Linked DNA regions of Homo sapiens. The protein of the gene in region 1 purifies or fractionates together with the protein of each later gene. This does not show direct contact. Each region holds a gene or a part of one and is shown on either strand. Other genes may lie near its edges. The genes, in order: PIGU and RNF121.

What was found.
Region 2: the proteins of PIGU (region 1) and RNF121 purify together in Homo sapiens (affinity purification with western blotting, with the first as the bait; one study listed by BioGRID). This does not show direct contact.

Annotation. Positions count from the first base shown.
Region 1 is NC_000020.11:34,666,870-34,670,690, reverse strand, and holds part of PIGU (GPI-anchor transamidase component PIGU), read left to right. Parts: intron 1-3,821. UniProt on the Homo sapiens protein: Component of the glycosylphosphatidylinositol-anchor (GPI-anchor) transamidase (GPI-T) complex that catalyzes the formation of the linkage between a proprotein and a GPI-anchor and participates in GPI anchored protein biosynthesis.
Region 2 is NC_000011.10:71,987,909-71,991,729, forward strand, and holds part of RNF121 (E3 ubiquitin ligase RNF121), read left to right. Parts: intron 1-2,688; coding exon 2,689-2,809; intron 2,810-3,821. UniProt on the Homo sapiens protein: E3 ubiquitin ligase which accepts ubiquitin and transfers it to substrates thereby promoting their degradation by the endoplasmic reticulum-associated degradation (ERAD) pathway which is a pathway involved in ubiquitin-dependent degradation of misfolded endoplasmic reticulum proteins.

The DNA.
Region 1 (3,821 bases):
GCGTGTGCCTGTAGTCCCAGCTACCTGGGAGACTGAGGTGGGAGGGTGGCTTGAGCCCAGGAGGTGGAGGCTGCAGTGAGCCAAGATTGCACCACTGCACTCCAGCCTGGGCGACAGAACAAGACCTTGTCTCAAAAATAAAAGAATCAGGGTCAGGAAGAGCACTTCTGATACCACTACTTAAAAAAGCCTTTATGGCCAGGCGAGGTGGCTCACACCTGTAATCCCAGCACTTTGGGAGGCTAAGGTGGGAGGTGGGTAGATTGCTTGAGCTTGAGTTCGAGACCGGCCTAGGCAACATGGTGAAACCTTGTCTCTACTAAAAATACAAAAATTAGCTGGGTGTGGTGGCAGGAGCCTGTAGTCCCAGCTACTCAGGAGGCTGAGGCAGGAGAATCACTTGAACTCAGGAGGTGGAGGTTGCAGTGAGCTGAGATCATGCCACTGCACTCCAGCCTGGGCAATAGAGCAAGACTTTGTCTCAAAAAAAAAAAAAAAGCCGTTATTACAAAATTAAACAGAATTTGTAAGACACACATAACAATGTATTCTATGGTGAATTATTGTAAGGTGAACATTTTTGTAACTGTCATCCAAGTCAAGAATCAGAACTTTGCCACTCACTTCAGAAGCCCCCCTTCGTCACAATCCCCTCACTCTTTTCATAAGTAACTATTATCCTGACTTTTATATGTAATGACATCTTTGTATTTTTAAAAGTTTTATTACTCAAATGAACATCCCTAGTTCATTTGCCGTTAGGCTTAGTCTTGCCCCTAAGAAAAAAGTTTTTGTTTGTGTTTTCAATCTCTCTTAATTTTTAGGGTCCCAGGTTCCCTTTCTCTTCCATAGTGTTTATCTATTGAAGAATCCAGACAGATCTCCCATAGTTTGAATTTTCCTGATTATATATCATGATACAATTTAACATGTTCCTCTATCATCTCTATTTCCTGCAAATAGGCAGCTGGATCCAGAGACTAGATACCACTGTTTTTTGTTTTTTACTTTTTTTTTTTTTTTTCAGCCAGAGTCTCACTCTGTTGCCCAGGCTGGAGTGCAGTGGTGTGATCTTGGCCTACTGCAACCTCCACCTCCTGGGTTCAAGCAATTCTCTTGCCTCAGCCTCCTGAGTAGCTGGGATTACAGGTGTGTGCCACCACACCCAGCTAATTTTTGTATTTTTGGTAGAGATAGGGTTTCACCATGTTGGTCAGGCTGGTCTTGAATTCCTGACCTCAAGTGATCTACCTGCCTCTGCCTCCCAAAGTGCTGGGATTACAGGCATGAGTCACTGCACCAGCCTGTTTTTTAGCTTTTTACTTGAAATCATTTTAAACTTACAGAATACTTGCAAAAATATTGCAGAGAGATCTGTATACCCTTCACCCAGCTTCCCCCAATGTTAATATCCTACATAGTCATAGTACAGTGATCAAAACTAAGATGATAGCATTGGTACAATACTATTAACTAAACCATAGTTGTTAAGATTTTACCATTTTTGCTGGGCACAGTGGCTATGCCTATAATCTCAGCACTTTGGGAGGCTGAGGCGAGGGGATGCCTTGAGCTCTGGAATTTATGACCAGTCTGGGCAACATAGGGAGACTCCCTCTCTACATAAAATTAAAAAAGAGTTAGCTGGTTTGGTGGCGCACACCTGTGGTCCCAGCTACTTGGGAAGCTGAAGTGGGAGGATTGCTTGAGCCTGGGATGAGGAAGCTGCATTGAGCTATGATCATGCCACTGCACTGTATGTAGCCTGGCACCAGAGCAAGACCCTGTGTAAAAAAAAAAAAAAAAAAAAAAAAAAAAAAAAAGTTTTACCATTTTTTCACTAATTTTTTTTCTGTTCTATGATCTAATATTCCATATTGCATTTTTATTTTTATTTTATTTATTTATTTATTTATTTTTTTGAGTCAGAGTCTCGCTCTGTCACCCAGGCTGGAGTGCAGTGACACGATCTTGGTTCACTGCAAGCTCCGCCTTCCGGTTTCATGCCATTCTCCTGCCTCAGCCTCCCGAGTAGCTGGGACTACAGGTGCCCGCCACCTCGCCTGGCTAATTTCTTATATTTTTAGTAGAGATGGGATTTCACCATGTTAGCCAGGATGGTTTCGATCTCCTGACCTCATGATTTGCCCACTTCAGCCTCCAAAGTGCTGGGATTACGGGTGTGAGCCAGCACGCCCGCCCCCCCCTTTTTTTTTTTTTTTTTTTTTTGAGACGGAGTCTCGCTCTGTCACCCAGGCTGGAGTGCAGTGGCGAGATCTCGGCTCACTGCAACCTCCACCTCCCAGATTCAGGAGATTCTCCTGCCTTAGCCTCCCGAGTAGCTGGGATTATAGGTCCCTGCCACCATGCCAGCTAATCTTTGTATTTTTAGTGGATACGGGGTTTCACCATGCTGGCCAGGCTGGTATCGAATTCCTGACCTCAGGTGATCCACCTGCCTCGACCTCCCAAAATGCTGTGATTACAGGCATGAGCCACCGCGCCTGGCCACATATTGCGTTTAGTTGTTATATCTCCTTAGTCGTTTATCTGTGATAGTTCCTTAGCATTTCCTCATCTTTTATGACCTTGACACTTTGAAGAGCTCTGGTCAGGTATTTTGTAGAATGTCCCTCAATTTGGTTTTGTCTAATGTTTTCTTGTGGTTTGACGGAGGTAATGGATTTTGGGGAAGAATACCCCTGAGATGATATGGTCCTCTCAGTGCATTGGATCAGGGGTGCATATTGAAATGCCCTAATACTGGTGATGTCAGCCATAATCCCTTGGTTAATGTAGTGTCTGCCAGATTTCTCCACCATAAAGTGACTGTTTCCCTTTGTAATTAATCAGCATTTTAGGGGCTATTCTTTGGAGCTCTGCAAATATCCTGTTTTTAAATTTTTGCCTACTAATTTTTGCATTCATAGGTTAATCTTGCCTGTAACAGTCATTACTCAGGTGTTTCAATGGTGACTTTTCTGTTTCTCTCATTCATTTTTATTTAATAATTAAAATTCTTCTGTAAGGAAGAGTTGTCATTTCTTTGCATTTATTTAACTATTTATGTCAGTATAGATTTGGATATTTTATACTCTGGACTCTGTATACTATATTCATTCTGTTGTTTGGATTATTCTAGTTTTGGCCATTGGGACCGCTTTCATCTTGACCCCTTTGTCCTTTTGCCATACCTCTATCTCACTTTTTTTTTTTAAAAGCACTTTATTACATTCTAGAACTATAAGATGATCCAGGTTTATCTTGCTTAGTTCAGCCCTGGAATTGACCACTTCTTCAAGGGCCCTGGCTCCTTTTATTAGAGAATGTTATTTAGAAACAAAGTTCTGAATGCTAGGTGTGTTCATTGCAGCTGGAGTGATGCTGCTTCTTAGGCCCTCAGCTAGAAGTATAGGGACACTACTGCTTTTGAACAAGCTTTTGTCCTTATTGATACGGGAAACTGAAAAATAATATTTGTCTTATACAGGATGATATGCTTTTATTATCACCCATAGGAAAAGTATACCAAGGTAACTAAGAATTATTGGCCAGGCATAGTGGCTCATGCCTGTAATCTTAGCACTTTGGGAGGCCAGGGTGGGTAGATCGCTTGAGGCCGGGAGTTTGAGACCAGCCTGAGCAACATAGCAGGACCCCATCTCTACAAAAAATAAGAATTAGTCAGGTGCTGGCTGGGCGCGGTGGCTCACGCCTGTAATCCCAGCACTTTGGGAGGCCGAGGCGGGTGGATCACGAGGTCAGGAGATCGAGACCATCCTGGCTAATACGGTGAAACCTCGTCTCTACTAAAAATACAA
Region 2 (3,821 bases), on another chromosome or scaffold:
CCCCATTCCCCCAGGAACACATCCAGTTTCAAGAATGTCGCAGTCCAGATGTGTTGTACTAATCACAGGTCATAAGCAGTGTTGCCTGTAATATAGCTGACATTCGACAAGATTTCTAAGGAAACAGTTCTGGAAAGTTAACCTGTGGATGTTAAGTCCTGCTTCATTGTTGGGCACTTAGGTTGTTTTCAATTTAGTATTATCCCAGATAACGCTGCTCTGTTGCTTCCTAAGGGTGCATTCCTAGGGATGGAATTTTGGCTGTTGCTTCAGTTGTCATAAGCCTTCCAAAAGATCTTTATTAGCTTACAGGTCCTCCCACCCCGAATTGAGTCAGATGCCAAGAAATCCTGAGCTCAGAGACTGGAGCATGCAGTGAGTCAATGAGGCAGATGAGGGTGGAAATAATGCTTTCCTGGATGAAATACTGGTGGCTGTGGGCTGTGGATCAAGAGGAGCCCTAAGCCTACGACAGTGCACTGAAGCTAGAGATCTAGGATTCAAATTTAAGATAATGAATGGGATGATCACTGGCCTCTTCCCTGAGCCTAGTTATATTGTAGGCAGGAGTCTCTGAAAGGAGTTTATTTTAGGACAAGTAAAAATAAATCCTGGCCAGGTGTGGTGGCTCTCACTTGTAATCCCAGCTATTTGGAAGGCTGAGGCAGGAGGACTGCTTGAGGCCAGGAGTTCAAGACCAAGCTGGGCAACATAGTGAGACTCTCAACTCTTAAAAAAAAAAAAAAAGAAAGAAAGAAAGAAAATTAGCTGGGTGTAGCAGTGTGCACCTGTATCCCCAGCTACTCAGGAGGCTGAGGTGGGAGAATTGCTTGAGCCCAGAAGTTCAAGGCTGCAGTGAGCTATGATTGTGCCACTGCACTCCAGCTCAGGTGACAAAGGGAGACCCCCATCTCGAAAAAAATAAAAATAAATAAATCCTATTTTATATAGTGAGAGTGCACTCATGAAATTCTTTCTTCTAGGGGTAGTACAGGCTGAAGGAATAAACAGGCTCCTGAAGGGTTTAGAGGAATTCATCACTGTAGAGTCAAACACATCTTGTCAAAGAAAACAGATATCTCCTGGTAACTTTCTAACCTGTATGGTTAAAAAATAAAATAAAAATCAAGATTCTGCATTATGGGATTCTGCATTATGGTTTTTTGTTTGTTTGTTTGTTTGTTTGTTTGTTTTGAGATGGAGTCTTGCTTTGTCGCCTAGGCTAGAGTGCAGTGGCTCACTGCAACCTCCACCTCCCGAGTAGTGGGGTCAAATGATTCTCCTGCCTCAGCCTCCTGAATAGCTGGGACTACAGGCATGAGCCACCACACCCGGCTAATTTTTATATTTTTAGTAAGGATGGGGTTTCACCATGCTGGCGAGGCTGGTTTCGAACTCCTGACCTCAGGTGATCCACCTGCCTTGGCCTCCCATAAGTGTTAGGATTACAGGTGTGAGCCACCACGCCTGGCCTCTGCATTAAGTTTTAAAGATAATTCTTCTATAATTACAGTTTCTTTTTACTTGCCTGAACTCTACAATGAGGAAAACAGAATTGAGAATCTTGATCATTTTTGTGCTACTGATCAAATTAAGTGGTGTAAGATCAATGATTTCTAGTGAGTTAAATATTCAGGGTTCATAAGCAAATGCAGCTTTGTATATAAATATAATTTATAACTAAGCACATACATACGGTTCTTTGTACAAATATTTTAACAGATAATTTTCTATAACAAAGATTTATAGACTCAAGGTTGCAAATTATCGGTCCTTGGAATTATTAAAACAAACCTTCTGATGTTATAGGCAAGATCTTTATCCTTCTTGTTAAATAGACTTGGACCAAAATTTAACTTTGATGATATGATACAGATTATTTATATTTGTAGTTTATAATTTTATAGTAACTGCTATATATTAATAAATATTTACTAATTTTATCTTTTTTTCTTAAACCTGTGTTTGACAAGCTGTTTCTGTAAAGGTCCAAATAGTAAATATTTTAGGTCTTATGGGACAATAGGCCAAATCTAGGATATCATGTAGGTACTTATATAACAAGAGAAAAAACTCCTACCCTGTCCCACCCTCTTTGCCTGGGGAAGGGGCCAGGTCTCAGGTAGTGGGCATGCTTTGTGCTCTGTTGTCATAAGCTGAGACAATCTCAGAAAGAGGGGCATGTGGCCACCGGAGTAATTTTCAGTCTCTGCACCAGTGACACCCAGATTCTGGCATGCCCTTTCCTCCTTATGGATGGCTCAGCTGTTTCAACTTGAGTGGCTAGCTGGAAGAGAGACAGCTCAGCAAGGCAGCTCACTTAGTGTCCAGAAGTTACCAACAGTGGAGTCCCCACTATGTAGGTCCCGATGAGCATAGGTCCTGGGTAGCTGCAAGTCATTGTCACCAGTTAGGGGAGGCAAGGACTAAGAGCAGAGTGAGGAAAAGGGGTAGGAGGGGATACTGTAGCTTGGTCTTCACAGCCTACAGTGCTAGCTAGCCTCCTCAAGAGGTGTTCATGGGCCATATAAAAATAGACAGCAGACTGGATTTGGTCATAGTTTGCCCGCACTTGCTCTAGCCTTTGGGCCTTCTCGCTTTGGGCCCTGCCTTGTGTGTCCCAGAGTAGTAATCCATAGAAGATATGTCTCAGGGTGGGTCTTTCTAGCTCTAATGCTTCCCTTGCAGGATCAAACCAGAAGATGCCATGGACTTTGGCATCTCCCTTCTCTTCTATGGCCTCTACTATGGAGTTCTGGAACGGGACTTTGCAGAAATGTGTGCAGACTACATGGCATCTACCATAGGGGTAAGTTCATCCGGGTTCTTAAATACTGCTTCTTGACACCTCCAAATTGCTCAAGTTGATGTCACTTGTTTAATGGAAGAGAAAGGCACTAGGGTGAGATAAGCCACATAAAATCCTTCAAGATGTGCATATGCATGGACATTCCTTCCTTAAAGTTTGGAAAGCAACACAGCCATAAAAAAAGATAAAACCATGTGCGTTGCAGCAACATGCCAGCTGGAGGCCTTTATCATAAGCCAGTTAATGCAGGAACAGAAAACCAAATACTGCATGTTCTTACTTATAAGTGGGAACTAAACATTGGATATTCATGGACATAAAGATGGCAACAGTAGGCACTGGGGACTACAAGAGGAGGAGGGAGTGGGGACAACGGTTGAAAAACTATCTGTTAGGTAACTGTGCTCATTACATGGGCAACAGGATCATTCGCACCCCAGACCTCAGTATCACGCAGTATGCCCATGTAACAAACCTGCACATGTACCCTCTGAATCTAAAATAAAAGTTGAAATTATTAAAAAAAAAATTAGCCAGATCTCAGATGTACCCTATAATTTTTCTCTTTAGGGCCATTATAGGAAAGAGCCACTTTATCCAGCAGGAAGTTAACATTCATTCAGTAGATACTTTTTAATGCCTGCTATGTGTCTAGACACATAGCTATATGCCAGAATTACAAAAGTGTACAAAAATAAACATGGTTTTTGCCCAGATAAACTTTACTCTTAGGTGGGAGAGATGGCTATTACAGTAACAAACACAGATAAAAATAAAATTACAACTTTAATAAGCATTATGTAGGAAAGGTTCATGATGCTGTAAACACATGTAGTAGTGTCATTTGACCTAGTCTTGGGGCTCAAAGATGGCTTCCTTGAAGAAGTGACTATGGAGCTGACTTGAACAATGAATAGCAGTTAAGTGGATGAAGTGAGAACCAGGCAGAGGAAAGAGCATTCATAAGAGTCCTGTCACGGGAGAAAGTGTGGGTGTTTTTGAGGAACTAAGA